Linked DNA regions of Homo sapiens. The protein of the gene in region 5 interacts with the protein of the main gene of each other region in a pairwise test. Each region holds a gene or a part of one and is shown on either strand. Other genes may lie near its edges.

Region 1 (4,415 bases), 3.4 Mb from region 5:
TGCTCTGTCATCCAGGCTGGAGGGCAGTGGTGCGATCTTGGCTCACCTCCCAGGTTCAGGCGATTCTCCTGCCTCAACCTCCCAAGTAGCTGGGATTACGGGCGCCCGCCCACCACCATGCCCAGCTAATTTTTGTACTTTTAGTAGAGACGGGGTTTTGCCATGTTGGCCAGGTTGGTCTCAAACTCCTGACCTCAGGTGATCCACCCGCCTCAGCCTCCCAGAGTGCTGGGATTACAGGTGTGGGCTGTGCAGCCAAATTTGTAGTGTTTTTGATTCAGGCTTAGGAATTTAGGTTTAGTCACTTTATGAGAGTAACTTGGTCTTTCAGGGGTGAAGTTATGAAGCTTACAGAAGTGGATATTAAGTTTAAAATGGAGTTCAGCATTTCATCGTTCAGTGAGAAAAGCCTCCAGGCAGTTGAGATGGTTTATTTAGAAAGCCAGATTCATGAATGATTATGCTTTGGTGAAAATAGAATAAGGGGGTTAGGTAGTTTTAAGACATAACATTTTCAGCAAATGAGGCTTGATTTACCCACATTAACAAGAGATATTCGAACTGCCTCTCTGAGATAGTTACTCGAATGGGCACCTTCTTTTGGTTGTTAGGATATTCTTTTTTTTTTTGAGATGCAGTTTCGCTCTTGTTGCCTAGGCTGGAGGGCAATGGCGCGATCTCAGCTCACCGCAGCCTCCGCCTCCCAGGTTCAAGCAATTCTCCTACCTCAGCCTCCCGAGTAGCTGGGATTACAGGCATGCACCACCACGCCTGGCTAATTTTGTATTTTTAGTAGAGACAGGGTTTCTCCATGTTGAGGCTGGTCTCGAACTCCTGACCTCAGGTGATCCACCCACCTCGGCCTCCCAAAGTGCTGGGATTACAGGCGTGAGCCACCGCGCCCGGCCTAGAATATTCTTTTTGTAACCCTCAGTATACTTGGGAAAACAGTCATCACTGATCGTTTACCAAATAATTTTGTAGCAGAAAGAATGAAAGGGTAGTAAGGTCGTTATTGGACCTTTTTTTTTTTTGAGACAGGGTCTCGCTCTGTCACCCAGTTTAGAGTATAGTGGCATGATCATGGCTCACTGCAGCCTTGACCTCCCAGTCTCAAGTGATCCTCCTTCCTCAGCCTCCCAAGTAGCTGGGACTAGAGGCATGCACCAACCACACCTGGCTAATTAAAAAAAAATTTTTTTTATAGAGACGAAATCTTCCTGTGTTGTCCAGGTTGGTCTCAAACTCCTGGGCTCAAGCAGTCCTCCTGCCTCAGCCTCCAAAAGTGCTGGGATTACAGGCATGAGCCACTGTGCCCCCCATTATTAGACTTTTTTAAAGGCCATTATTGACTCCATGCTGGAGTATAGTGAAGCAAACACAACTCACTGCAGCCTTGACTTCCTGGGCTCAAGAGATCCTTCCACCCTACCCCAGGCCCCCAAGTAGCTGAGATTACAGGCACATGCCACCATGCCTGGCTAACTTTTGTATTTTGCATAGTGATGGTGTTTCACCATGTTGTCCAGGCTGGTCTCGAACTCTGGAGCCAAAGTGATCTGCCCACCTCAGCCTCCCAGAGTACTCGGATTACGGGCGTGAGCCCCACCACGCATGGCCTTATTAGACATTTTAGTGAGGGTTTAAACATAGCAAATCTAACTTTTTCATATTTTCCAGGTTTTGATGATATATGTATCTACAATGAATGCAGTTCTCTAAATGTAACTAACTGCTCACTGTTATACATGAACCTAGAACATACCAATCTTATAAATATTGATAGCAGATTTAAAATATATCTCTAATAAATTCTAGCTTATTCTGGTTATTCTTACAGTTGGATCATCAGAATGCAGTCCTTGAATACTTTGGAACTTTTAATGACATCTCATTCTATTGAAGAAGGGATAGCCATCTCTGTGCTGTAATTTTAGCACATTTAGTCAGTTGGATTGACTAATCTATTGAATATTTTTGCATTTCATTATCTTTCTTTTTCGAGTTACCTTTGTATACACATCTGCTTTTGACATTTCCACTTACGAAGTACATTTTGGCACACAAACATTTCTTAAAATTTTATCTTCAATTTTTATTTTACCTTTTTTTTCCCCCTGGACAGGGTCTCGTTCTGTCACCCAGGGTTGAGTGTAGTGGTACAATCTTGGCTCACTGCAGTCTCAACTTCCCAGGCTCCAGCAATCCTTCCACCCTAGCCTTCCATGTAGGTGGCACCACAGGTGCACGCTACGACACCTGGCTAATTTCTTTTGTATTTTTGATAGAGATGGGGTTTCATCATGTTGTCCAGGGTGGTCTTGAACTCCTGAGCTCTCAAGCAGTCGACCTGCTTTGGCTCCCCAAAGTTTTGGGATTATAGGTGTAAGCCACCGTGCCTGACCACAAACATCTTAAAAGATGGAAGAATACTGTCATATACCCTTTTAGCAAACCAGGATGATCTGGGTTCTTGTTGGAGGATTTTGCATGATGGAGTCTCAGTTGAGTCATTAACTGGATGAGAATACACATCATCTTTCCCTCTTCTCCTTAGAAATACATTGTTTGAGAACAATGTTTGAGAAATACATCGTTTGAGAAATACATCGTTTGAGAAATACATTGAGAACATTCATCTAAGATGTCACCATCTCAGACTTCATAGTCTGAGGTTTTGCTTTGTAAGATAATTTCACATTTATCAGTACTCTTTGCATCTGTTGTCTGATATCTCTAATAATTAGAAAGGCCTTCCTCTGTAAATTTTTCTTCTCTTCGCAATTATGAGTGAAAAAAATTCATAATTATCAACTGGTCAACGGTAGCTAAAAGCAGACTACAAGGATGGTGTCTTTGGTCTTTTTGAACTGTTTTGAAAGAGATGTGATACCTCAGGCTATGCAGTAAGGAAACTGTATGAACATTAACAGTTTATTTCACTGTTGTATCCTCTAGGTGATGCCATCATTCCTCTGTTCCATTTTAGTCTTTATTTAAAGCATAGCTGAGAATAACTGATGAATGTTGATGAAATTGTAAAGTGTTTCAAGATATAGGAAAAATAAGATCACTAGATTCTACCTTACATTTATAAAAGGGCCCAGTGGATACATATAATAATTACAGAATAAGGGTGAGTTCTGTTCTAGTCTTAGAGAAGTAAACTTTCTTGTTTTTTGGAATATGTCGTAAGGAAGAATATAAGTCATGAGATATTGATCCCTTTGAATAGTTAGATCTGTTTATAAAAGAAATGGAAAAGCTAAAATTGAGTTTAACGGACCCTGATTGGTATATTGGACTTCCTGCTTTTTCTCATAGCTTTTTTCTAATCATGGTATACGATAAAGTTCATTAGTAGGTTTTGGTTTATTCATTTCCAGTTCCAGTATTCCTACCACTTCCAAGATTACTCTCAAATCATCCTGATAGAAGCTTCAGGCTTTCTAAAAGTCTTTGTTTTTAGTTGTTTGTGTTTATCTCCCAGATGGCTGTTAACAGCCACTGATAGGTTTCCCTGATGATCTCTGCAAGGACAGTCAATCTTGGTTTTTATTGGTTTTTAGTTTCTTCTCAGCCCCCCTTTTCTACCTTTCTCTATACTGAAAATATAATACGTTAAAGAAGCTCTGCTGTGTCATAAGAAATAACTCTAATCCCAAGTGAAAGCTTCTGTGACCTATTACGTTAATAAAACTGATATTTATAGATATAAAGAATATGACTTGTTTTTTTGTGGATAGTTTTTATTTTGTTTTTTTTGAGATGGAGTTTTGCTCTAGGTGCCTAGGCTGGAGTGCAATGGTGTGATCTCTGCTCACTGCATCCTCCACCCTCTGGACATGATTCTCCTGCCTCAGCCCTCCGAGTAGATGAGATTACAGGCACCTGCCACCATGCCCGGCTAATTTTTATATTTTAGTAGAGACAGGGTTTACCGTGTTGGTCAGCCTTGTCTCGAACTCCTGACCTCAGGTTATCCACCCACCTTGGCCTCCCAAAGTGCTGGGATTACAGGTGTGAGCCACTGCGTCCGGCCTGGATAGGAATTTTGTAAGATACTTAATGTATTCTGCTAGATGGACTGAATGTGTGTAATTTTTTTGTTCAGTTAAACAATTTTAGTACATTTGATTTAGGTTCTTTAGCACGGGATCTAAATGTCATATCCTCGATGGAATTTAAAAATTACGTTAATCACTTTCTGAGAACAATTTTTAATATTAACAATGTTGACAGAAACAGGAAGACCTGTGTTTTACATTATTTAAAACTCCTTTGTAAGAGCATTTCTTTAAAATAATACTTATGTTTAGTAAACCTCATGAATATGGAATTAATTTCTAAGAAGCTAAATTGCCCAAAAAAGTAGTTTTATTTTTAAGTAGTAAATTTAAGTTACATATCACTTT
Region 2 (4,209 bases), about 44 Mb from region 5:
CCTTTCAGCTGTGGTGTGTCCCTCCTGGTACTAACATGTAATGTGTGCCTCACTGTCCCAAGCACTGAGGATAGAAGATGAATGAGACACCATCTCTGCTCTAAGACTCAGGACAAATGAGTCCTAAGTATCACAGGGCTGGAATGGGTGTCTTTATGGGAAATAGGGGTGGGACAGGTGGTCCCTGTGCTTAGTGGGGATGCAGGGGAGAAAGATGTTGTCATCATAATTTGGAGGATCACTGGGGAAAGTGGTTGAGCTGAGTCTTGAAAGACAGGTGGTGCTTTCTGGGAAGAAATGGCGTGGGGTTCAGTAGAGGGTCATTTCTGGCAGATAGGGCCTTGTATGACAAGAAATTCTAGGGACTTCATATTGTCTGAAAGGCCAAGCTAAGTTCAGTGAGGTTGGAGCTGATACATGATTTTGTCATTCTTCCATGCCTTGCTTCAAATGACCATAGAGGATCCTCTAACCAGGCATTCTACCGTTCTTCCTTTGCTATGTCCAGAAGGAGAAGAGGGAGGGCTCTCATTCTTTATGGCTTAGAGGTAGACCTCAGACCATGGGCTGAAAGTTGTGAAAAGGCAAATTCAAGTTCAATAATTAGGAAAAACATTTTAATGTTGGCTCCTTAAAATAGACTACATGGTGAGGTAATGAATTCCGTGGCAATCAGCGACTTGCCCAAGCATTCAAAGCTAGTTAGGCCAGCATTAGAATGCACACCTACGGGGTCCCGACTGCAAAATACAGTGTTCTTTTTACCACCTAGAAGCTGGGTGTTGCTCCTACAAAACACCACAGAATTCTGAGCCTAGGACTAGACCTGAGCAGCTGGAAATATACAGACTTGCTGAGTGCCTTGCTTATTACTGTCATCATAACAAATAGTTGTCATTGAACAAACAGCAAGCCATGTCAGGTATTTCCTTTTATTAGCTCTTACAAGATTCCTGTTGGAAAGCTGAGAGGTCATGGAAACATTTGTCTACAACCTCCTTGAAGAATGTGGTGAGAAAAATATACATACATATATGTGTGTGTATATGTCTACTTTGTGATGAGTCTGAGGTTGTTTCCTGCTCTGAAGGGGCTCAGAAGTGCTTCTGGAGGGCAGACTGGATATTCTTCAGCAGGCCCCACTTAGCTCGGTTCTTCCCATGTCCATCTGGTGTTACCACCTGCAATCAGAAGCGAAGAGTCATGACACCCAATAGACAACAGCTCCCAGTAGCCTGGGCCCTTCTGCATGTCAGACACTACACACATCATTTCATTAACTCCTCACGACCACCACAGTGGCTGTTGGTGCCACTTTATAGATGAAGAAGCTGAGGCTCAGAAGGACCAGGAAGGTTTCCCAAAGCCCCACAGCTATAGTGTCCTGGGATTGTGATTCCATAGGCCAGATCCTACTTCCCTTTAGGGTAGCTCATGTGACTAAGTGCTGATGACAGTGATGGGGCTGGACCGCAGGTGAGCTTCACCATAGAGGATCCTCTGTATCCTTCCTCAGCCATTAGAACTTGGTTCTGTCACAGCTTTTATCAGTTGTTAAGTTTCAGCTAATGCATTTGACTTTCTTACCAGACCATGAGCACCTTGATTGGGGTGTGGGGGAAATGATAGTCTTTCATCTCTGTGGTCCCAACACTAGTTATGGAAAAGAGAAGATTCTTAGAGAAGTATATGAACAGTGAATAGAACTATAATATAATATAATTTGTAAATCTGCCAGTTGTTTTCCTTTGATGCTAGCAGAAACACTTCATACTATCTTTAATTACAGTGAATGGCCAGTGCTACCTGAAAAAGAAAGACTGTACTGGGCACGAGGGGTAAGAAGAACCCTCCTAGAAATCTCACCAAGTTAGCTTAGATGTTGCCCTCCATGCCTTACCTTGAAGATACTGGGTTTCTTCACTACTGTGGTCTGGCAGCATTCCCATTCCTTCCCCCCAAATAAATATTTATGGAGTGAGGTCGAGACCCAGGGATGAAAGACAGTCCACTGGATCAATGGGCTCTGCTGAGGTGAATGAGGACTTGAGATAGAATGGGGGTGGGGTTTGTATGGTGAAGAGGAATGTTTATACAGGGCACAAAGTCTCTATGTACAAAGCTTTTAACCTTCTATATTTGTATATAAAGGGAAAGGGCAAAAACAAAGAAGCCAGACCCTTATTAGCATTATGCTCTCTACTTTTACAAAATTTTTGGTTTTAGAGAAGACAGGGCTGCATGCAAGGCAAAGGTCATATTATATACATGATATTAGATTATCCATTGCTGAGTAGAAATGGAAATAATGCATAGAGATAACCCTGATAAAAGTAGTATAAATAATGTCCAAGATACACACAGAGTTATCAGAGGGCATGAGGAAGATGGAACGGTGTTACGAGGTGTTAGGAATTAACTCATAAATAGGAGATTGAGTTTTTGCTTTAAAATATAGTCAGAATCTTCAAAGATAAAGACTGTATGTGATATGTGAATGGAGCAGTGAGGATTGAGGTGTGTCTATGAAAAAAGGGAATCAGGTAGAAAGAAGGACAGAAGAAACAGAAAAACAAAACTTGGAATATTAAAGAAATTGAAATGATAGTTGACATCTCTTCCCTGCCCCAAATGCCCCAGGCTCATATTGCTTTCCAGATGAATTCTACCAAACTCTTAAGAGTTATTCTAGAAAATAGAAGAGCAAAAAGTTTCCCAGCTCTTTTTATGAAGGTTGTGAAATATTGATTCCAGAACCAGATAAAAACAATATAAGCAAAAAATTGAGCCCAATTCCCTTATAATTATAGATGCAATAAACCAAAATAAAATACGAGCTAACTGAAGTAAACTGTATTAAAAAGTAATACATCATGAACACACAGGATTTATTCCATGAATGGAAGTGGAATTTAGTATCAGAAAAATCAGTCAATGTAATTCACTTCATTAATAATGGCCTGAAGGAGAAAAATCATGTAATTACCTCAAATAATGCAAAAAATTTAATAAGTACCTATTTCTCAGAAACCTAGAAGTAATTTTCCTTAACTTAATAAGGATTATATACCATAAAAACTAAATAAAAAATAACTCAATGGAGAAACGTTAATATCAGGAATAAGACAAGGATATCTACTAACACTGCCACAATTTTATGTATGACTCAAGGTTCTGGCCAAAGCCATAAGGAAAGAAAAAAGAAATAGAATTGTGAGAATTGTAAGTAAACAGATAAAACCATCATTCTTTATAGGAGATAGGATCATATGCCTGGGAAAACAAGCAGAAATAGCAGATTGGGTCTCAGAATAGTAAGGAGAGTTTCTGACATTGCTGGAATCAAGATTACCCTACAAACAGAAATAGTCTTTATTCTAAACCAGTAATCTATTAGAAAATATAATAAAATAACTTTCATAATATCAACAGTCTGTAAACTATTTGGTTTATTTATTTATGGTATGCAACATGATGTTTTGACATATGTATACAAAGTAAAATAATTACTACAGGCAGGCAAATTAGCATACCCACCATCTCACAGTTATCTTTTTTTGTGTGTGTGAAAAGAACACCTAAAATCTTAACAAATTTTCTATCAATACAATATTATTAACTGTAGCCCTCATGCTGTACGTTAGATCTCTAAATGATCTAGTTTAACCAGGAATATGTGCACCTATGTAGGAAAACTTAAACACCCCAGTAAAGAACATAGACTATGGTTTGAGTAAATGTTCAAACATATTACAAAAATACCATTTGTTTCCAAATTAATTTAGAAACACAATGCCTTCTGAATAAATTCTATCTGAATGTTTTCTAAGAATTCAAGTTACTCCAAAATGTATATGAAGAAATAAATTTCTATGATTAGCTAAATAATTTCTGAAAAAGAAAGAAGGATAATGGGCATACTTACCGTAGCAGTTCATAAAGACATGGCAGAAAGCTGAGGTTCAAAAATAATAAAACAAGTATGGTATTGATATAAGAGCAGAAATATAGACCCATGGCATGTAATAGAGTCCTCAGAGACATACCCCTAAATATATGGAAACTGAATATAAAAGTGGCATTTCTGGCCAGGCGCGGTGGCTCATGCCTGTAATCCCAGCACTTTGGGAGGCTGAGGCCGGCAGATCACGAGGTCAGGAGATAGAGACCATACTGGCTAACACGGTGAAATCCCGTGTCTACTAAAAA
Region 3 (5,215 bases), on a different chromosome or scaffold from region 5:
TCAATGCAAATTTTGTGGGCAAAATAGAATTTCTGTGGGTGTGATATTTTTAAAATGTATTGTAAGGCTGCTCTGAACCATCCAAGCATATCCCACTGAATTTAAACATTCTCTAAAGGTCCTGAAGTCAGCAACTACAATCCAGGTGAACCAAAAGTTGCTTCTCTATGTCATAGAAGCCTACAGGAGAGGCAGTAGGGTGGGAATGGAGCAGAGAGATCCCAAGAAGTTATGGGTAAATATTTTTTAAATCTAAACATTCAGAAAAATAAGAGAGACTAGGAATCACTCTCCTCCTCCTCTCCACCACACCAAAAAAAAAGGAATAATAAGAAAGTGAAAGGAAAAATAGTTTTAGGTTAAATTTCATCACCATCTGAAAGAAAATTACTCCGATTTTGTTTAAGCAAGAGAAGAATTCAGCTGAGAAATTATCTAGCAGGCAGCAAAATCAGGGAGTCACTTCCCATTGCAAAGCAAAAGAAAACAAGGAGCAAGAGTATGGTCCTGGATAGCTGTTTAGACAATCAGACATACTGCTAACATCTCCTTGCCTTAGAAACTCCGTGATGTTTAAATTAACAATTGGCCACAAGCCAAACACAGGAACACTCAAAAGTTTAGAAGGGTGTGCTGTAATTGGTACCTTAGCAAAACACAATAATAAATTAGGAGGATTCAAGAAGCCTTCACTGTAGACTCTAAGAAGATTTAAGATTTGTACCAAGAAACAGGCTTCTAAATCTCTTCTACTGCATTAGTTTAGCATCTAAAGAACACCTGTCTAAAAATCAAAATATCTAAATCCTATCCTTTGAGTCAACTTGACTAACACTCAACTTGACTACCTAAAAGCTAGCTAATAATCGCAGCACCTCAGCAGAGCAGAGGTGGAGGGCATAGTTTTACGCACTGAGATCCTATAATAAAAGAAGCCCTATGTGTCAGAGTAATCCCATTTCTGACATATTATTTAATACTTAATTTTTCAAATCACTTTACAATCATATTTATTATTCCCTACAATTCTCTAAAGCAGGTTATTCCTTTAGTCCTGCTTCATAGGTGAGGAGACTACATATCATGAAGATTAAGTTATTTACCAAAACAAGTTAATGATAGACCAAGGATTATTACCCTCAGACTGTCTCATTGATTATACTCCTCTCTATCCTAAAGCTACACTTAAAGCTTTCACTCAAAGAAAAAGGAAAAGCAAAAACACCATCATATATGCTCTTTATTAAATGCTTCAGAAACAACAGCTCTGCTTCATCACTACAAAGCCTCCTGGTCCACTTCTGAAATTCTTAGTGACCTAGACGTGTACGAAATTTGAACTTTCCAAGAAGTATCTAGTTGGTGCTGAACAACCCAGTACTATTTTCGGGTGATAAATAACCTTGTTCTCTTTTTAAACATCTGCGATTGACATGTCGACTGACTGTTAACAATGAACAAAGACCATATTTTTCTGAAGCTCATCATCTTCCTAACCTTTTCTTTGAAAACAGATGTAGTTCATGTACTAGTTTTTTGGTGAAGGTAAAAATCTTTATTCAGATTAGGCTCAGAAAAAGAAGGGGCTGCTTTCCGTTCAACAAATATGCACAAGACACCATCCCACTGGGAGCATCAATCTCAGAAGCAGTAAAACACAGCCTCGGCCCTCAAAGGACTTTCTGAACACCTTTGGAGTGTCATCCGTTTAATATACATTATTTTAATTAATCCTATTAGCTGGATAATTTCATTCCCATTTTATTGGTGAGTTCATATAGCAGAGCTGGATTTGAATCCAGGATTACAGAGCAGGGCTCCAAAGCCCAAGTTATTTCCACTAAAGGGTCTGAAGAAATGTAGAATCTAAAAGTGTGGGTGGGATGGGGAAGATATGATTTGATTCCCTTTCCTTGGTCCAACCGTGTTAGAAACATCCAACCACAAAGAAGCTTTCTAAGGAAGCCCTTTGAATTGACGTATCCACTTTTTCTCACCCGCCCGTGCCCCACCCCCAGCCATGCCAAAGGAGCAGCAAATGCTGCTGCCAGGTTGGAGGAATTGGTGATCGTCACACCACATTCCTGGGTCTGGACACAGCCTGAAACAGCAGCAGAGCTCCGCGCCTCAGAAAGAATAACAGCAGTTGAGATTTTTAAATCATGTGCCTCAGCATGCAGCCACACCAGTTGCCCTACTTCTCCTGCCTCCACCTTTCAAAGACGCGAGCAGCACACCCGGCTCCTCCGGACTTTCGGTGGGGTTGGAGTGTCAAAACTCAGGCGCGCCGCAAAACCCCGTCCCCATCCAAACCAAGCCCACACACCCGGCCCATGTGCCGCCCCCTGGCAAAGGCGAGGCTGGCTGCGAAGGTGCAGGCCGTTTGGCTTGGCGGCCCTGCCCCCGCTCTCCACGCCAGAATCTGGCATTCCTTCGCTCAGCCCCTCCGAGGCCCGCCGTCGGCTCTCGCTCGACCCCAGGAAACGCGGAACCTGAAGGGCAAAACTGCCCACCTCCCTGCACCCTGGCACTACGAAAAAGGAGTTTCTGAGACTTGCTGCCGGCCTCCCTCCTGCCGAGGAGGCGTGTGAGGGGTCCCGGGCCGCGGGGAGCAGAGGCGGCGGGGAACCCCGGCGGTTGGCGGGGAACCCCGGCGGTTGGCGGGGCACCACGGGAGGGGCCCCCGGCGATGTCCAAACTCTCGGGAACCCAGCGAGTGGCCTCGCTCCGCGCCGGCGGCCGAGCCTGGCCTTCCCACACAGAGAAGGACCGAGGGGGAGAAGGGTCGCCCCAGGTGGCAGCCCCGGGCGCCGCGGACAGCGCCCCTCAGCCCGATACTCACCATGCGCGGGGGTCGCGCAGCACAGCCAGAGCGCCAGCAGCGCCCACAGCAGAGCGGGGCGCAGGGCGGGTATCTTCTCGGTCGCCTCCTCCGCCGCCGCCGCCGCGGCCGCCTGGGCAGATCCACATGGGGAGGGGGTCCCGATAGAGGAGCCCCACTCTCTCCTCCCCTCCTCCTGCTTCAAAGGCTCAGGCCCTGGCGCTACGCTCCGAAGCCCAGCGCAAATGCCTCGACTCCCCGCGCCCCGAGTCCGCCGCTCCTCGGCCGCCGCCTCAGCCGCCGCCCGAAGTTTGGCTGAAACTTTCTCGGGTGTGCAGCGAAGCAGCCTCGTGTGTCCTTCCGCCTCAGCCGCCTCCTCCCACCGCAAGCCCCGCCCCACTGTCGCCGCGGCCTCGGCCCCGCCGCCTTGGGCACCCAGGGGTTTCCCGCAGGAAGAAGCGCCGGCCCGAGCTCCGCGCGGAGGGATCTACTACGAGTCACTGGCCCCGTCCGCATCCTTCTCCAGCGGCCCCGGGGGCCGCCGCGCCTTAACTCGATCAGGGCTGCAGCGGCTCGCTGGCTTGACCAGTGCAGAAGGGGCGTGGAGGTGAGCGGGGTGGGGTAGGACTCTGAACTTCAAGCACTGGAGTTTGCCGGGATCGTGAACTTGCAGGGAGAGGCGGTCCTCATCCAGTGAGGTCTGTATCGCCACCTACACCCACACATCCACACACTGCTTTGCTAGCTAGAGGAATGCTCTGGAGTAGGACCAGTGCTGTCAAAGAAGGAAAGTGGGCCAAGGCGCCAAAGTCCATTAAAAAGGAATAGAGCCATCACGGAGTGGTGCTGCCCCATTCATTCATTCATTTGTTCATCCGTGTAGCGAATATTTCTTAAGTGCCTTACTTTGCGTAGCTGTGTGCTTGGCAGTGGGATGATACCAAAGATGCACAAGCAACTTTGAGTACCAAGACTTTGCCGCTGTGGGCTGGGGGATTCAGGGAAGGCTTTCCCAGAGGAGCTGGGATGAAAGCAGGATCTTGAAAGGTCAGTAAAATTTGTATAAGACAAGGAGACCAGCTAAGCTAAGGATATTCGTTGTAACACTGTAATAGCAAAACCTTGAAAACAACATAAATGCCCACCCTTAGAGGAATGGATGAATAATGTATGGTATATTTATAAAATGAAATGCAACACAGTAATTGAAAAGACTATAGCTATTTATGTCAATAGGGATAAATCTTAAAAACTAAATGACAGTGAAAATAATCGCAGAGGGAGACAAAGTATACCATTTATGTATATTTTTTTCAAGACAATACTACACATTATCTGTGGATGCATATATATAGATATAGATATTAAGAGACTATAACCAGAATAGTAGTTACTTCCAGGGCAGGAGAGTAGGGGGTGTGATCAAACCTGGGTACAAGTGGGCTTCTAAGAAAAGAGCTAAAAGTAAGAACAACAACAATAGTTGTATGGACATATCATTCCGGGAAAGAGCCCTCGTGAAAGCAAAGGTACAGTCAGAAGAGTAAGTAAATGAGTTCTGTCTCTGTTAGCAGTGAGAGGAGTCAAGGACGGAAAGGGGGTTGGGACCAAATTATGCAGCCTTGAATGGCAAGCTGAAAGGGTGGGGAGGCAGCTACCTCTTAGGTCACATAAAACTATTGAAAGTTTTTGAACAGAGTTGAGATTGATGGAAAGGAAGATTGCTCTGATAATTCTGTAGAAAATTGATTGTTGGGAGCAAGAGGTGAACTGGAGCCCCAGGACCAGTCAAGAGTTGGTGAACAGTCCAGGCACAAATTTAAGAAGACCTGAACTAATAAGGTAGATTTCAGAAGGAATGAATCTGAGACAATGTTAAAGAAACAGAAAAAAAAAATGGAGGTGTGACTAATTGGATGTGGGAGTTTACAATCCTGTTGGGATGAGAAATCCTACCCATAGAACCTCTCCCTGACTCCTATAGGATAAAATTCAAACTTCTAAACATGGTACATACAAGGCCTTTTCGTCATTGGGCCCCATCTCCTGTCCTCCCTGCCCCTGTTGTGAACTTCACACAATAACAGTATTACTTGAGATTCCCCCAAACATATCTTGCTGTTTCTGTCCCTGTATCTTTTGTTCCTTTGGCTTGGAATGACTCCTGTAGTCCCCTTCCCTCCTCCTCTTAATGAACTTCTAATCATAATTCATCCTTCAGTCCAAAGAAGGCTTTGCCGACACCACAATAAATTCCTCCCTCTAACAGACAGTCCCTCCACTGTCTTCCACTGCCGCTTCTTTATCTTAACACCGATACTTATTTTTCACACAGGACTCTTTGTATTTCTGTGTTCTCAACTAAGTTTTGAGGTCCTCATGGGCAAAGACCAC
Region 4 (3,746 bases), on a different chromosome or scaffold from region 5:
CCAGCCTCCAGGGCTCAGGTTTGGGTGGGAGGGGCCTGGTCCCACCCAGACTCTGTATGTAGCCCCCAGTCCCTGCTCCTCTGTGTGCATGAGGGAGTGCCAGCTTGCTTGGGACCCCCCAGGGTGAGGGCTTGGGACGGGCACTGGGGCCCCGCAGGGGCTGAGGCAGCCAGGAAGCCCACAGCATAGGCTGTTTGTGTTGGCGGGCCTCCCTACCTCCTCAAAGCTGCCTCAGAGCCCGTGGGCCTGGGGGGCCAGGGTGTGTGGGCTTGGCTCTGCTGTCTGTCCTGAGCTGCCCCTGCTGAGCTGTGTGGAGACCCCGAGGTCTGGGCTGGGCCAGGACTGAGCTGCTGCCCTGCTGCTGGGGCTCAGAGAGGCTGCTCCACGGGCATGGCACCCAGGCTGCTGCAGACAGGCTGCTTTATCATGTGGGCAGGCCCCTCTTTGGGTTGGACCTCCGTCTGGCCTTGTGGGTGTCTGAGATCTCCTTGCAGCTCAGTCCCCAGGGCTTTTCCAACCTGCAGAGCTCTGGATGTCTCTTTTGGGGCTCTCGCTCAGCCAGGGTTGGGGTGGAGGCTCTATGGTTCCCTCCTGCCCTTGGGCTACTGGAAGGACAGTTACCTCACTCCAGAGAGCTAGTTCTGAGGGGCGAGGTGTTGCGGGGTTGAGCCAGCAGGGCAGGGAGTAGTGGGCACTGCGTTTGGCTGCCCAGGTGGGTTTGGGGCCTCTCCCTGGCCAGAAATCCCTGAGTGCCAGGAGGAGGACAGACTCCCCAGCCTGGCACCCATGGTGGAGGAGGGCCTTGCGGGTCATTGCTGGCAGCTCCATAGGGAGGGCGTGAGGCCCCTTCCTGAGCCTGGGTGTCTGCTCAGAGCCCAAGGCAGGGTGGGGTAGGGGTGCTTGTGCCTGGTAGGAAGCAGACAGCAGGCTGGTCCAGGGGTCCAGGACCCCAGGGAGGAGGCACTGCTGCGTGTCTGTGTGGGTGCAAGCATGTGTCTTGGCCTGTGTCTCTGCATGTCCGTGCTGTGAGTACGTCTTTGAACATGTGTTCTCTGCACACCGTGTCTCTGTGAGTGTGAGTCTGTGTCCCTGCCTGGCTGTCTCAGAGCCCTGAAGGAGCAGAATTTGGTGACTCAGTCATTGATTCAGAGCTTTCCTGGTTGGGGCTACTCCTCAGTGGTCTTCTTCTCCGAGTCTGGTGGTGTATCCCCTGCCCACCCCGACTGCCCCTCTGCCCTGTAGGGACCTGGCCCCAGGTGGGGGTTCCCTGCCCTTCTCTGGGAGCATCTCTGGCTGTACAGCTGAGGGTGGAAGCCAGGGCTCCACTCTGCCCATCTTTCCTTTTGCAGAGCTTGGGGCTTCCTTGGTCGCACCCACCACCTGCCTGCCCACTGGTCAGCCTTCAGGGACCCTGAGCACCGCCTGGTCTCTTTCCTGTGGCCAGCCCAGGTATGTCAGGGCCCGGCTGGGCTGGATGGTTGTGGTGGGCAGCAGTGGGCTTGCCTCTGGGTCTCACTTTGCCAGCCCAGGGGCCTTGCCAGCGGACACTTTGACACCACACCTGAGTATCTAATTGGAGCTCCCGTGGGGAGGGGCTGGACTTTGGAGACAGGGTCCCAGAACACCCCGACTGGGGTGTTGAAGGACCCTCCCCGACTGAGCTCTGACACTGTGCCTTGCCCGGGCCCCTGACTGCGTCTGGGCAACCCAGTGTGAATCTTGAACTTGGCAACAGAAGCAAGCCCAGCTCCCCGCCCCCACCCCCCCCCAACCCCGCTCCTCCTGACCCTCGGTGGCCTTGTGAGGTTTTTGATTTCTTCTTGAATAGGCTTCATCTGCTCACCTGGGCGATGTGTGCAGAGCTTTGTAGATGGGAAAGGGGGTGGGAGGGGTCTTAGGGGACACTGGGACTGCATCCTGGGCGCTGGGCTCAGTGCAGGCACCCAGACCAGCTCTCCCTTCGCCCTCCCACCCGCCTGGGACCCTCGAGCCTTGCCTGCCACTTCCCCTTCCACCCCCAGCCACAGAGGGACGCAGGGGAGATGGGGCAGGGGTGCCACTGGCTAGCCTGGCGGCGGATGCTCTCCTTGGGGTGGCTCGGGTGGTGTTTTTGACTGCAGGTGGGGTCTGGCTTCTCCCAGTCAGCCTGGGGTCCTCCCGGGTCCCCGTGGCACCTGCCCTTGCCTGGCCCACGAGTAGGTGCTCTGAGCGCTGCCCAGGTCACATGTGAGCTCCCTGGAGGCGCTGCACACGGCTGAGTGTCTGCCCTCAGGTTGCACCTGCGTGGCCAGGGGAAGGGGGCCGGGCGCCATCTGCTCTCTGGGCAGAGCTGCGGGTGAGGGTTTCTGTCAGGGTTGGGGTCCCAGGGCTCCTGGGGTCTCTGCTGGGCCCCGATGCGTGGCCGCCGTTCTGACCCATTCCTGGGGCCCAGACCCACCAAAGAACCCCCAGGGGAAGGACAGGGTAGGGGCCATGGGAAGCCCCAGGATGGCCTTGTGGGCCTTCAGGGGACCTCCAGGCCAGCCTCCTGTTCTCTGGGGGCCCCCTGTCCCCTTCCCCCAGCGAGGACCTGGGCATGGGGTGCTGCCCTGGGGCTTGGGCTGCAGTTCTCTACAGAGCCCTTGGGGGGCAGCAGAGGCTTGGGGCACCCAGCCCAGGTCGTCAGGGGTGGGCAGAGCTGCGGGACCTCCCTGGGCACCCGGGGCTTCCACGGCAGCCCTCCCCAGACCTGCCACCTCCCACATCAGTCACTCCAGGAGGACCCAGGCCTCCAGAGCTGGTCAGCCCTGCCATGGAGCACCCCCTTCCCCTCCCTTAGCTTCCTCTCCCTCCTCTTCCTCCTGCCCTTCCTCATTCCCCACCTCTGGGCTTCAGGTCATCTGCCAGGAATCTGGGCCACGTGCTGATATCTTCCCAACACCGCAGGGCCCTTGTGCCCTGTGGTGGGGCTGGGGCTTCAGAGGCGTGGGGTAGGCTGCAGGGCACAGCTGGGGGCCTCTGTCCCCATCTCCGGCTGTGGGAGGTGTGTGCGCATCCGGCGTGATGACACCCAGGAGTGCAGGCACATCTGCGCACGGGGCCGGTATGTCTGTACCTGTCAAGGGGTGGGGTGGGGTCTTTTACAGGCTGACTTCCAGCCTGGGCTGGAGCAAAATGAAATTCTGGGCCCCTTGTTTAAAAATTACCAAGAATTTCAAGACGGGAACAGCAGAGCATCAAGCCAGCTGGGGTGGGTGCGCGCGACTGCCCTTGAAGCCGGCCCCGCTCCCGCATTGGGGACAGCACGGGGCGGAGGCCGAGCCGGGCCCACCTGGAGCGCTCTGGGTCTGTCCTGGGGCTGCCAGCCTCCTGCGGGGCTGCCTGGTGGAGGGGGGGTGGGTATCTCAGGAATCACACCTGCGCTTTTCTGTGTTCTGGAACCTCCCATATAGTCAAAGACTCAACGACACCTGCTCCATGCAGTGCAGGCTGACCCAGCCCCCCACCCGCCGCCGGCACTCAGGGCTTCCCCAAGGGCGCCCGGGGCGGAGCCGCTTCAAGTTGCCACCAGACAGCAACGGGGTCACCCTCCATTTGCGTAGTGCTTTGAGTATCGTTCTCGTGGTTGGAGGTCTCCAAGCCCGGCCCGGGGCCAGAGTCCGGGCGAGGTACCGTGGGGGGAAGGGCTGGGGGTGTCGGTCGCGGGCTAAGAGCTGCCCAGGTTTCATCCCCAGGCCCCGGCCCCGGCCTCCAGTCCCCTCAGGCGC
Region 5 (4,415 bases):
CAGCTAGTTAACAGCAGAACTGGAACTCGATGCTTCAATGGGCTAAGACAATAACTTCTTAACCACATACAGCATGCCTAACACTCCATAAGCAAGCTATGATTTCCCTTTCCCCTGCCCTACCAGATCATAAAATCCCAGATTCATTTGACTCCACATTGTTTATATGAAAGATGGATCTGCAGCTACATACATTTGTTAGATTTCTGTTCTGATACCCTCATTTCCTAGAGCTTGTCAAAATGCCTGGGTCTTGATGGTAGGAATGAGGGAGGGGAGAGAGAAGAGGGTAACAGGGCAGGAGGGTCTTGTCTTATTCTCTACATGATTTGGTCTCAAGGTAAGCACAGCCAAAAGCTGGATCAGAGCTGATTCCAATCCACTCTGACCCCAGTTTGCCCCAGAACTGGTCCAGAACACGAGTTTCCAGGAAAAAAACAGAAAAGTGTTTGCCTCACTTTAGACAAAGAAGGTAGAGGCTGGGCTGGGTGTGGTGGCTCATGCCTGTAATCCCAACACTTTGGAAGGCCAAGGCAGGAGGATCACTTGAGGCCAGGAGTTCAAGACCAGCCTGGGCAACATAGCAAGACCCCATTGCTGTGAACGAAGGAGAAGGGAAGGGAAGGGAGAGGGAAGGGAGAGTGAAGGGAAGGGGAGGGGAGGGGAGGGGAGGGGAGGGGAGGGGAGGGGAGGGAAAGAAAGGGAAGGGAAGGGAAGGAGGGAGAGAGGGGCTGGTGACACCTTTGATTCTCTCTCTGGAGCAACTTCAAACATGAAGTCAGCAAACAGGCCAGCGATGTGGGAAACTAAACTTGAGTCAAAATCCTGCTTCTACTTCCCTAAATTCTTGAGTCTCTAGACCATCTCAAGAACCATCCCCAGCCCCTCTGCGGAACCCAGGCATGCCAGCCAACTGCCACGCTATCCTCTGCCTCTCCAGGTCTCTTTCAGCTCCCCAAGTGTCAGAGCTCCTCTCTCTCACCTCCTACTCTCTGCCCCTTCTCCACCAGGCCCCACTCAGGTTCCTGGCCACAAAGAGCCAACCTCATGCCCAAAGACTGAAAAAGAAATGTTTTAATAAATACAAAACTCTCCAATAATGACTCTGCTCAGCTCAGGGGCAGCAGGAGTGGAGTGTCGGGGGCCCTTGGTGCTGAGTGAAGATAAATTAAAAATCCCAACAAGCCAGTGACATTATGTACAGGAGGAAAGGGGTGGGGCTTCCAGGACAGAGGCCGAGGGTGGCAGGGCAGGACTTGGAGTGGCTGTGACCTCGGTCTGGCCCAGCTGCCTCTCCCCCTTGTGGAGCTGTGGTTCCCAGAGGTAGTGGGGGTGGGAGTAGAGGCAGGACAGAGGAGCAAAGGCACTGGGCTTCCCACAGGAGAATGCAAGAAGGTCCTCGATGCCACCCCTTCCCCAGCTCAGGCCCCATCCTCTTGGTCACTTGGCCCTCTGGCTGCTCCCTAAGAGCCTTCGGCTTCTTTCTCCAGCTCTGGATCAGTTCTGGTCTCTGGGGCTGCTGGAGACAGAAGGGAGGGAATGTTGGAGGAGGGGAGAGGGAGTGGAGAGGCACAGAGAGGCATAGAGGGCAGGGCAAAGCATCCCTGCCTTGGTCCCAGAAAGGCCAGTATTTTCTAAACAGGTCAGTGCACACAGCTGGGTGACCTTCATCTCGTTGCTTAATTTCTCTGAGCTTCAGAAATCTCATTTGTAAAGAAAAGGTCATAAATAACAATTCCACCAGGTTGCTGTGAGGGTGGATTGGAATGGCACTTGTGAGGCAGGCTGCACTGTTCCTGCACACAGTGAGTGCTCCCTTCCCTGATCAGGAGTCCCACAGGCAGGTGAGCCCTCCACTCACAGCTGCTGACCCTGGACTCCCTCACTTACGCCGCCGGTGGGCCGTGCAGCGGGAACAGCATCGACTCTCCTTCCCCGAGCCACAGGACAGTGGCAGTGAACAGTCATCCCGCTCACAGTGAGGCACCCCTGCCTGGTACAAGACAGAGCAGACACTGAGTGTCCCCCAGAGGCACTGGGACACAGTGACCTTCAGCTTCTTCAGGGACCTCCCTGGGAAGGTCTCCCTACTCCAGACCAGGCTCCCAGTACCCACCTCACACAAGCCTCTGCTCCCCACTTACCCCACATCTGCAGGTGATACAGCTCATCTCTCCAAAAGGGGGCACTGAGGGGTGCCAGCTCTGACTCTCTGGGAACCACTGCCCAGCAAAACGGCAGCCCCGGGGCCCATCAGCCTGCATGGGGTCCCCCAGCTGGGGGTGGGCCCCCGACCCCACTGTTGAGAGGGAAAGAGAAAGGATCAGCCCAGGAGGACCAACAAGGTTTTATGAGTATTCTCTTTGAATACCCAGCACGTTGCAGTTTCTGGCACTTAGTAGGTGATAAATTTGGATGGGTGGGTGGGCAGATGAATGGATGGATGAAGGGACGGATGGATGGATGGATGGATGGATGGATGGATGGATGGATGGATGCATCAATGGGTGGATGGGTGGATGGATGGAGGGATGGATGGATGCATGGATGGATGCATCAATGGGTGGATGGTTGTATGGGTGGATAGATAGATGAATGGACGGATGGATGGATGGATGGATGGATGGATGGATGGATGGATGGATGGACGGATGGATGGAGCAGGAACCAGAACCCATCATACCCCACTAGTATATCACATTCTTTCCACTGCATTTAGAGTCCTGGCTCCAGGCTAGGCACAGAGCAGTGCTCAGTATAATGCTCAATTAACTGAGCACCCTTCCCCTCACCCAGGACAAAGCCTGCCTCAACCCAAAGGTGAGGCCTCAGTGCTCAGCCACCTCTCTCACCTGGACACTGTTTGCAGCAGTCGGTGGGGTTGACACGCACAGGCTGGGCACAGGCCAGCCGGGGACACTGCACCTTCTCACAGTGCACCTCTCCAGTGCCCCCCTGTAGGGATCCATTGAGCAAGGAGTGTCAGGCAGGGGGCACATAAGCCTCCTGCCCACTCCCTCTCCTATTCCACACCTCAAATGCAGTCTCTCTGTGGCCTTTTACTCAGAGGCCCGGACTGGCTTTATAGACCTAAACTCAGCTCCTCATCAGAACCCTGCAAGGTAGGTGCCATCATATCTGCTTACAGGAGAGGAAAGTGAGGCTCAGGGACAGAAGGTGCCTAGGGTCACTGGCACTAGTTAGCTGGCAGAGCCAGAATCCACACCCAGGTCAGCCCTGTTCATTTTCCCACAGGAAGCCGACTCTCAGAGCGCAAGGGCCTTTTCTCATATCGTTTTGATTCTTGAGCCCTCCTCACCAAGGACGGGCCTTCCTCACCTGGCAGCCCCTCCCCATCTCTGCAGACCCCGCTGGGTTATGGCACCAGAGAAGATTGGGTGGCCATACCTTGCAGGTGCAGACAGCACACTTAATTAAGCCAAAGGGGGGCACAACGGGGTGCCACCGCGTACCCGCTGCCCGCCAGCTCCGGTCACCATCAAAATAGCAGCCTGGTGGGGAACAGGGCCCAGCAGCCATTAGTATGAGCTCATCAGCTGGGCCCACAACCAAGGCTTGAGCCTCAGGCCACCCCCACACGAGCCTAAGCCAAGGGCCCACCTGGGGGCCAGTAACACTAATGAGTCCTGTCAGGCATCACTTGGAATCTGTGCCCCTCAGGCCACCCCCTATATACTCTCCCCTTCTTGTCCCCCTCCTGGTTCAACCTAATGGCTCCTCTGGGGCCTCCCACCCTGCACGCACCCTTCCAGCTCACCCTCTCCTGGGTCCCGGCTCCTTGGCAGCCCTGGCAAGTCTCTGACATCTTGTTTCTCTGTGGAGCCAAAGAAATGGTGAAAGCAGAGAGTGACCACCCTCATTCCCTCCCCAAAGGACCTGTCCGCACTGGGCCAACTCCTCCCTCCACTCCCCTGCGGGGAACTCACCAGGGCAAACAGGGCAGCACTGGTCGGGAGCCTGCACCGGGTGTGGGCAGCTGGGCGGTGGGCACACCACCGGGTCACAGATCACCGTTCGTCTCTGCAGAGAGGAGCAGAGGCATTGACGGGAGTGTCCAGGCCCCTTGCTCCAGATCCCAGGACCCAGTGTGCCCTTCCAGGACCTCCTACCTGGCAGGTGCAGAGTGAGCAGAGCGGGTCGTAGTTGGGCGCCCAGCGAGCCCCGTGGGGGCGCTGCTGCCCCTCGAAGAAGCATGTGTTGGGGTCTCGGGGCCGCCCAGGACCACCAGGTTTGGCGGGCGCTAGGGCCGGGAGACCAGGCACCACAGGCGGCGCAGCAGAGGCTGTATCCGGAGCCCCCAGCGCCCGCACCCCCTCGGCCCCGGCCGCCTCCAGGCGCAGTCCGCCAACCTCACATTGGTTGGCTATGTGCACCTGGGAGGAGAGGCCAACTGA
Region 6 (4,415 bases), on a different chromosome or scaffold from region 5:
AATCATAGCAGAAGGTAAGGAGGAGCAAGTCACATCTTACTTGGATGGCAGCGGGCAAAGAGAGAGCTTGTGCAGGGAAACTCCTGTTTTTAAAACCATCTGATCTTGAGAGACCCATTTTACTATCATGACAACAACACAGGAAAGACCCGTCTCCATGATTCAATCATCTCCTACTGGGTCCCTCCTACAACACATGGGAATTATGGGAGCTACAAGTTGAGATTTGGGTGGGGACATAGAGCCAAATCGTTATCACCAGATCCAACCAATATACACAAAAGTGATAAACTCTGGACGTCTTGTCCCCCTTCTCTCACACTATATACAACAACCAACTTAAATGGATTAATGGTTTACACATAAGACCTGAAACTGTAAAACTACTAGCAGAAAACATAGAGGAAAAGCTTCATGACATTGTCTGGGCAGTAATTTTTTATAATGACCATAAAAGCACAGGCAATAAAAGGAGAAGTAGACAACTGGGACTGTATCAAAGTAAAAAGCTTCTGCACAGCAAAGGAAACAATCAACAGTGAAGAGAAAATTTATGAAATGAAAGCAAATATTTGCAAACCATACGTCTGATAAAGGGTTAATATCCAAAATATATAAGGAACTCCTATAACTCAACAGCAAGATAACAAATCACCTGATTTAAAAATGGACAAAGGATCTGAATAGACATTTTTCAAAAGAAGACATACAAATGGCCAACAAGTATATGAAAAAATGCTCAACATCACTAATCAGGGAAATGAACATTAAAACCACAATGAGTTATCACTTCATACCTGTTAGAATGGATATTATCAAAAAGATGACAGATAACAAGTGTTGGTGAGGATACGGGGAAAGGAAGCCCATCTATACTGATGGTGGGAATTTAAATTGGCATAGCCATTACGAAAAACAGTATGAAGGTTCCTCTAAAACTAAAAATAGAACTATTATATAATACAGCAATTCCACTGCTGGGCATACATCCAAAGGAAATAAAATTAGGATGCTGGCTGGGCACGGTGGCTCACGCCTGTAATCCCAGCACTTTGGGAGGCCAAGGTGGGTGGATCACCTGAGGTCAGGAGTTTGAGACCAGCCTGGCCAACATGGCAAAACCCTGTCTCTACTAAAATTACAAAAATTAGCCAGGCTTGGTAGCGCATACCTATAATCCCAGCTCCTCGGGAGGCTGAGGCAGGAGAATTGCTTGAACGCAGGAGGCGGAGGTTGCAGTGAGCTGAGATTGCGCCATTGCACTCCAGCCTGGCCGACAGAGCGAGACCCCATCTCAAAAAAAAAAAAAAAAAAAAAAAGACCAGGATGTCAATAGCTGCAATCTCATGTTCATTGCAGAATTATTTATAATAGCCCAGTTATGGAATCAAACTAGGTATCCACTGATGAATGAATGAATGAATAAAAAATATGATGTATATACACAGTGGAATACTATTCAGCCTTAAAAAAGAAGGAAATTCTGTCATTTGCAACAACATGGATGAGCCGAGAGGGCATAATGTTAAGTGAAATATGGCAGGCACCGAAAGACAAATATAGCATGATTTCACTTATATGTGGAATCGAAAACAGTTGAACTCATGGAAGCAGAGAAGAGAATGGTGGTTAGTAGAGGCTGGGGTTGGATGGGTGGGTAGGGTAGACTGGGGAGACATTGGTCAAAGGGTACAAAATTTCTGTTAAAAGGAATTAGTTAGAAAAATCTCTTGTATAATACGGTGACTATAGTTAATAACAATGTGTTGTATACTTGACAATTGCTAAGAGAGTAGACTTTAAGTGGTCTCACCACAAAAAATGATAAGTATTTGAGGTAATACATGTTATAAGTTTGATTTAGCCATCTCACAAGTTATGCATATTTCAAAACATTATGTTATACACTATAAATATATATAATTTTTTGTCAAATAAAAGAAAAAGGGGGCTGCCAGGTGTGGTGGCTCACACCTGTAATCTCAACACTTTGGGAAGCCCAGGTGGGAGGACAAGTTGAGCCTGGGAGATCGAGGCTACAGTGAGGTATCATCACACCATTGTACTCCAGCCTGGGCAACAGAGTGAGACTCTGTCTCTAAAAAAAAAAAAAAAAAAGTGACCCAGTCTTAAGTAAAAAGACAGTGAGCGGAAACCAACCTCAAGTTGACCCAGATGTTGGAATTAGCAGATAAGGATTTTGAAGAATGTATTACAACCATGTGCAAAAAAAAAAAAAAAGAAAAATATTTTATAGAAATGAACTGAAAATAGGAAATATCAGCAAAGAACTACCAAGTGGAAATTCTAGAAATAGAAAATAAAATACAATATGTTGGCATCTATTTCCAAAATGAAGAGCAAAGCTAGAGTAGTACCAACTCAGAGACAGCAGAGCAGAGCCTGGTAGTGTAGGGTTGAGGTCAAGCTACCTAAGCAAAGTTGGGAGAGGGTCTCCAGACAATGAAGGGGTGGCCTGGCAGGAGATCTGTCACAGGGAAGGAATGAATGTCTCCAGTGATGAATGTGAATACACACTTGTGTCTACATTGATCCTTAAGGGTAAGAACTGTTCCTGTTAATCTCTGAACCTCCAGTACCCTGTGCCCTGCATGTGGTAGGCACATATTTGTATTCTAATATTGACTCTGTTCAGGGATCACTTAACTTCTCTGAATTAAGCTCAGAATCATTAAAATGGAATTCTAATTCCTGTCTGGCCTACAAATCTGGCAACTGGAGCATCCCGTGTGAAACAGGACATACATTCACTTTGGAAACCATAACGATTAAGCAGTTTAAGAAATTACTATTATCCTTCCTCTCCCACTTCCATGTAGTGTGCTTTTATACCCAATTGTTTGCTCACTTAATTAAGTTAAAAGGAAATCTAGGTTCATCTTCCCTCCTACTTAGCAATGTTTATAGTTTTTTAGTACAATGAGGGAATGAACAAGTTGTATATTATATAGCTCTAGGGTTCAGAGCTATAAATCAAATTTTGAATTCACAATCTTTTCTGGAAGTATCACTCTCTTACCTTTGCAATGCATGTAACTTACTCTGTGTTCACCTTGCCCCAGTCACACAGAAGCCTGACCTTGGTACCAACAGACCCTGTGGATGTGAGGCTGTTCTCAAGATCACAATGAGTGTGTGGGTGCTGAAAGAAAAGAATGAATGGCTTCTGGCACTTAAACATTTTTTTTTATTTTTAATTTTTTTTGTTTGTGGTTCTGGCACTTTAATATCACAAAAACATGCATATGCAAAAATGCTGATCTAGAGGAACCAATTTTTTTTTGAGATGGAGTCTTGCTCTGTCACCCAAGCTGGAGAGCAGTGGTGCGATTTTGGCTCACTGCAACCTCTGCCTCCCCAGTTCAAGCAATCCTCCTGCCTCAGCCTCCCAAGTAGCTGGGATTACAAGCACGCACCGCCATGCCCAGCTAATTTTTTTTTTTTTTTGAGACAGAGTCTCGCTCTTTCGCCCAGGCCGGACTGCAGTGGCGCTATCTCTATCTCGGCTCACTGCTAACTCCACCTCCCGGGTTCACGCCATTCTCTTGCCTCAGCCTCCCTAGTAGCTGGGACTACAGGTGCCTGCCACCGCGCCCGGCTAATTTTTTGTATTTTTAGAAGAAATGGGGTTTCACCGTGTTAGCCAGGATGGTCTCTATCTTCTGACCTCGTGATCCACCCACCTCGGCCTCCCAAAGTGCTAGGATTACAGGTGTGAGCCACCGCGCCCGGCTGCCCAGCTAATTTTTGTATTTTTAGTAGAGATGGGGTTTCACCATGCTTGCCAGCTAGTCTCATGCTCCTGGCCTCAAGTGATCCACCCACCTCAGCCTCCCAAAGTGCTGGGATTACAGGCATAAGCCACTGCACCTGGCCAAGGAACCTTAAAATAATGCAATTCTCCTCTGCAGTTTTGGAAGCCTGGCCAGATTATGGGCTTTTGTGATGCACAGAGGGGAAAAAGTGGACATGAACATGCATACTTACATACATGAATCAAGATGACACCTGAGAGACTGACACAATGTGAAAACTAATAAATACAACTAAGCTCTTCAGATACTATCACTTAGTCTGAAAATAAAACTGTCACTAGACTTTACTCTGTATTTAGTACTTAGGCAGTAAGTACTTGTTTTAAAAAACATCTTCTCTGGGTAGGCCTCAGGCAGACGGTACTTCCGACAGGAACATTATACTTGTGGAAACATGAAATTTTTATAGGCTAGAGCTCAGGAAGAATGTATAATCCCTTGGTTAAATATCGCTGCCTAAGGTGTTACCTTTTCTTGATACTATGGGTTTGATATTCTGGTTTTTGTGAAATTAAAGAATGTCGGAAAAAAAAAGAAAAGAAAAAATGTAGTATATACCAGCATCAAAGAAAGGACAAA
Region 7 (4,415 bases), on a different chromosome or scaffold from region 5:
TAACTAAAATGTCAGTGATTAGGTTTTAAGGGATTTCAAATTACTAGGGAAGGACCCAGACACTTAGTGACTCCCTAGTGATTTGAAAATCTTCCTGGCTGCTGGCAGTAGTTTGCATGGAGACTGAATATTATCTCAGCCCTTTTGAAAAAGTAAAGAAGCTACAAATCCAGTGGCTGTTCAAAACAACAAAGAGGGTTGAGGTGCCTTTGGCTTCTAACAGGACTGTCTCTGAATTCCTCAAGGAATTCCAGGCCTAGAGTTGATCCAGCTGGCAGGAGGTATCGATCTCCACTTGAATTCACTGAATAAATAATGGTTGCCATAGTTATTGAGCAGTCGCAACTGGTTGGAGAGCAGGGAAAATTCTGCAGTACCTTCTGTGAGTTTGGCCATGAGAAAGTCTGGTTACAAGGTTCCACAATCAGCTCCCTCCCCAAATCCAGCCAACATATTACTCAGTTCCTGTATCCTGATGATGAATATGAGATCTTGAATGTTATGTAAGACATGAGACACTGAAAGGAAGGGAAAGCTTAAATCAATGGACTGGTATTTATTCTGAGAAAGGCGTCTCTCCCTAGGTTATGAATATAATTGAATATTTTTCATTATTAATTCAATTTAGTATCAGCAAGGTGATGTTTGATCATGTTATAGCATTCAAGGGCTTCACAAAGGACGAAATCCATCTCGTTCTATTTTAACATTATTATACAAAGAGCACAACCTGGACATTTTAAAAGGAAGGAAAATTTATCCCAAAACCCCATAGGTATTTTCACGTTTATATTTTCTTTCACCCTTCTCTATATGAAGAAATAATTTTTGCATAGATGGAATCACAGCTTTAGTATTTAATATTCTACTCTTTATTTAATGTTGTAAACGTTTTTTTTTTTAATTTTGCTTCATGGCCTTCACATTTGTTCTGTTTGATGTCTTCAGAATCTTCCCTTCCATATACCATTATTTACTTAACAGTTCCCCTATTCTTCAGCCCTTTGCCTTTTTCCAGTTTTTTGTTTGTTTGCTTTTGTTTTGTTTTGTCTTGGTAATAGATAATGCTGAACCAAATGTCTCCATGTATACAGTTTTATTCTTCTGTTAAATGTTTCCTTTGGATAAATTCCCAAGAGTGGGATTACTTGGTCAGAGGCTATGAACGATTTATAGCTCTTGAAATTTACTGCCAAATTTACAGCCTGTTCTTTTGTTTTGGGGAGAAAATAAAACTTTAGGCAGAACACCACTGCATGCAGGATTCTCTTAAAATTCATTCTCTTAAAATTCACAACAGTCTCTTCTGAGACTGAAACATGGAGCCTGTGTATTTAGTAATGATAAGCCGTAGGAGACAGGTCCGCACCTGGGCTGATTAGCTAATAGTTTCTCAGGGAAAGCAAAATGATGCACTGCAAAGCTTGGAAATTAGGCCACGAATTGCTTTTTGTTAGACCTTGTAGTTACCAGCCACTTGCCCACTGGCAAGCATTGTCTTTGGTTCTGATTATTCCATGTGTATAGCACTCTACAGCTGACAGACCACTTTTCCATAACATTATCTTAATTGAGCCACAATAATCCATGGAGTTGGGTTTTATTATCATTGTACTTTTTCTTTTAATTTATTACATAACATTGAAGACACACAGGAATAATAACAGCAAAGGCTGTGTATCTGCCACTCAATAATTCCGATTTTCCTGTGAAGACATTGAGCCTTAGAGAAATTAGGTCACCCAGCTAGTAAATGACAGAACCAGAACTAGAACCTAGGTCTGTCTAACTCCAGGGCCAGTGCCCATCTCTTTATAGCATATTGCATTGAGACAAGATGCCTGCAACTTACAGTCCATGGAGATCCCGCTGGCAATCTTCATGGTTGTATTTTAATATCATTATAACATATCAGGCCAGGTGCAGTGGTGCATGCCTGTAAGCCCAGCACTTTGGGAGGCCAAGGTGGGTGGCTCACTTGAGGCCAGGAGTTTGAGGCCAGCCTGGCTGATATAGTGAAACCCTGTCTCTACTAAAAATACAAAAATTAGCCAGGTGTGGTGGCACACACTTGTAATCCCAGCTACTTGGGATGCTGAGGCAGGAGGATCTTTTGAAACCGGGAATGTTGCAGTGAGCTGAGATTTCACCACTGCATAGCCTGAGTGACAGAGTGAGACTCTGTCAAGGAAGGAAGGAAGGAAGGGAGGGAGGGAAGGAAGGAAGGAGGACACATCAGAGCTTTGGGACCTTACAGATAATGAAGTTCAACCGTCTCCTTTTACAGGGCCCCAAAGTGGGAGGAACTTCCCCAAATCATACACAACTAGCCAAACTGAGGATAATGCAAATTTTCTGGTTCCCAGGCCTCTTATTTGGGACAAGAAAAAAGTGTCTGGATAGTTCTTCATTTTTCTTATTGGCTTTTGCTTCAAGGAAATAACTTTTCTAACAAAAATGCCCCCAACTTAAAAAATTAATTTAGAGCCAGGCACGGTAGCTCATGCCTGTAATTTCAGTGCTTTGGGAAACTGAGGCAGGAGGATCACTTGAGCCCAAGAGTTCAAGACCAGCCTGGGCAACATAGTGAGGCCCTGCCTCTACAAAAAATAATTTAAAAATCAACCAGGTATGGTGGTGCATGCCTATAGACCTAGCTACTTGGGAGGCTGAGGCAGGAGGATCACTTAAGCCCAGGAGTTCCAGGCTACAGTGAACCATGACTGCACCACTGCACTGCAGCCCAGGCAAGAGAGCAAGACCATGACTCAAAAAAAAAAAAAATTAATTTTGTAAAAATTAGAAACTATTGCTTGATTTCCCATTAGAAGGATGTCTTCCATCTCTCAAGAATTATGATTTTACATGTAAATGTACTGAGAGAAGAAAATTTCGAGATAACAGAGGCCAAGCTCTTCCTTTAGAAATGAGGCTCTGAGGCCAGGCACAGTGGCTCATGCCTGTAATCCCAACACTTTGGGAGGCCAAGATGGGAGGATTACTTGAGGTCAGGAGTTCGAGACCATCCTGGCCAATATGGTGAAACCCCATCTCTACTGAAAATACAAAAAATTAGCTGGGCATGGTGGTACACACCTGTAGTCTCAGCTACTCGGGAGGGTGAGGCAGGAGAATCGCTTGAATCGGGGTGGAGGAAGTGGGGGAGCAGTGAGCCAAGATCGCACCACTGCACCCCAGCCTAGGCAACAGAGTAAGACTCTGTCTCAAAAAAAAAAAAAAAAAAAAAAAAAAAAAAAAAAGAGAGAGAAATGAGGCTCTGAAGTCTAAATGTTGAGGAAAAGCATAGTGATTTGTTGTGGATGTCAGGCTCCCTTCTCATTGCTTTGGAACAAGAGACCAGTATTTGCCTCAGAAAACTGGGTTCTAATCCTAGCTTTTAGCAGCTGAGTGACTTTGGGAAATTCATTTAACCTTATACATAAGATAGATCATAGTATTTAACATGGAGATCATTTTATATATTGTTTTGTAAAATATAAGATACTGGTATTTGTGTCTTAATACATTATAACATGCCTGCACCACATCCTTCTGGGCTTCCTCCCCTTCTCTTTGGCTTTTCCATCTCCACAGCAGGAGGACATGTGTATTTTGTACAGAGTGCCAGGTGTAGGTCAACAGGGGTTTCAAGTGGGGGGGAACAAAACAAGGAAAAGAAAAGCTGAATTCTTCTCAGTGCTGGTTAGCATGAAAACACAGGAATGCACTTTGCTGTGTTGGGTCTTTTCGAGCAGCCCTTGCATTAGCAAATGGAAGTTACAGCCTCCCCACCTCCCTTAAATGAGTCTGTCAAGATAGAAACATTAATTCATTTGCCTGGATGTGTTTCTATGTCACTCTGAAAAATAGTTGCCTACTGACAAGGCTTTGTGAGAGCTTAGTAGGATAATGTATGCAAAATAATAACCACCCTGCCATTCATTCCATGTGGCTGTGTGCCAGGAACTGTGCTTCCCTTGTGTTACTTACCTAAGCTGGCCATCCCAGAAACCCTGAATTGGGTATGATCATTTTCTTCATCTCATAAGGAAATGGGTGCTCAGAAGTAAAGAGACTTACTCTAGGGCACACAGCAAGTAAGTGTTGGGACTGGGATTCAAACCTTGGTGTTGCTTCATACCAAAGGCCATGAGCTATCTCTAACAGGGAGGGCACTTTGATTGCAAAGAAGCTATCCAAACTGGCAGAATGAGACACAGACCTCAATTAGGGATTCAAAGTGTCTTAAGATGTATTTGCCTCCTAAACTTCTTGCCCTTCTCTATCCCTCTGCAGAAAGACATGGGTTAAAAGAACCAAAGAGAGTCGAAGAGCTATGCAACAAGATCACAAGCAGTTTAAAAGACCACCAGAGTAAGGGACAGGCTCTGGAGCCCACCGAGTCCAAGGTCCTG

Evidence for each region.
Region 1: the proteins of CHRD (region 5) and FXR1 interact in a two-hybrid assay, tested with the Homo sapiens proteins (one large-scale study listed by BioGRID and IntAct).
Region 2: the proteins of CHRD (region 5) and TRIM42 interact in binary tests that used the Homo sapiens proteins (3 or more experiments, as listed by UniProt).
Region 3: the proteins of CHRD (region 5) and NOTCH2NLA interact in binary tests that used the Homo sapiens proteins (3 or more experiments, as listed by UniProt).
Region 4: the proteins of CHRD (region 5) and TSPAN4 interact in binary tests that used the Homo sapiens proteins (3 or more experiments, as listed by UniProt).
Region 6: the proteins of CHRD (region 5) and F2R interact in a two-hybrid assay, tested with the Homo sapiens proteins (one large-scale study listed by BioGRID and IntAct).
Region 7: the proteins of CHRD (region 5) and NR4A3 interact in binary tests that used the Homo sapiens proteins (3 or more experiments, as listed by UniProt).

Annotation. Positions count from the first base shown.
Region 1 is NC_000003.12:180,943,305-180,947,719, forward strand, and holds part of FXR1 (RNA-binding protein FXR1), read left to right. Parts: intron 1-4,415. UniProt on the Homo sapiens protein: mRNA-binding protein that acts as a regulator of mRNAs translation and/or stability, and which is required for various processes, such as neurogenesis, muscle development and spermatogenesis.
Region 2 is NC_000003.12:140,697,860-140,702,068, reverse strand, and holds the end of TRIM42 (tripartite motif-containing protein 42), read right to left. Parts: intron 1,654-4,209; coding exon of another isoform or gene 1,555-1,653; exon of another isoform or gene 1,327-1,554; intron 1,182-1,326; coding exon 1,095-1,181; 3' UTR 919-1,094; downstream 1-918.
Region 3 is NC_000001.11:146,225,867-146,231,081, forward strand, and holds the start of NOTCH2NLA (notch homolog 2 N-terminal-like protein A), read right to left. Parts: upstream 3,156-5,215; 5' UTR 2,846-3,155; coding exon of another isoform or gene 2,843-2,845; intron 1-2,842.
Region 4 is NC_000011.10:845,852-849,597, forward strand, and holds part of TSPAN4 (tetraspanin-4), read left to right. Parts: intron 1-1,349; 5' UTR 1,350-1,449; intron 1,450-3,746. UniProt on the Homo sapiens protein: Structural component of specialized membrane microdomains known as tetraspanin-enriched microdomains (TERMs), which act as platforms for receptor clustering and signaling.
Region 5 is NC_000003.12:184,386,471-184,390,885, reverse strand, and holds the end of CHRD (chordin isoform 1 precursor), read right to left. Parts: exon of another isoform or gene 4,402-4,415; intron 4,395-4,401; coding exon 4,131-4,394; intron 4,042-4,130; coding exon 3,948-4,041; intron 3,836-3,947; coding exon 3,779-3,835; intron 3,513-3,778; coding exon 3,409-3,512; intron 2,956-3,408; coding exon 2,853-2,955; intron 2,300-2,852; coding exon 2,145-2,299; intron 1,994-2,144; coding exon 1,891-1,993; intron 1,520-1,890; coding exon 1,464-1,519; 3' UTR 1,057-1,463; downstream 1-1,056. UniProt on the Homo sapiens protein: Dorsalizing factor. Key developmental protein that dorsalizes early vertebrate embryonic tissues by binding to ventralizing TGF-beta family bone morphogenetic proteins (BMPs) and sequestering them in latent complexes.
Region 6 is NC_000005.10:76,725,590-76,730,004, reverse strand, and holds part of F2R (proteinase-activated receptor 1 isoform 1 precursor), read right to left. Parts: intron 1,294-4,415; exon of another isoform or gene 1,172-1,293; intron 1-1,171. UniProt on the Homo sapiens protein: High affinity receptor that binds the activated thrombin, leading to calcium release from intracellular stores.
Region 7 is NC_000009.12:99,859,324-99,863,738, forward strand, and holds part of NR4A3 (nuclear receptor subfamily 4 group A member 3), read left to right. Parts: intron 1-4,296; coding exon 4,297-4,415. UniProt on the Homo sapiens protein: Transcriptional activator that binds to regulatory elements in promoter regions in a cell- and response element (target)-specific manner.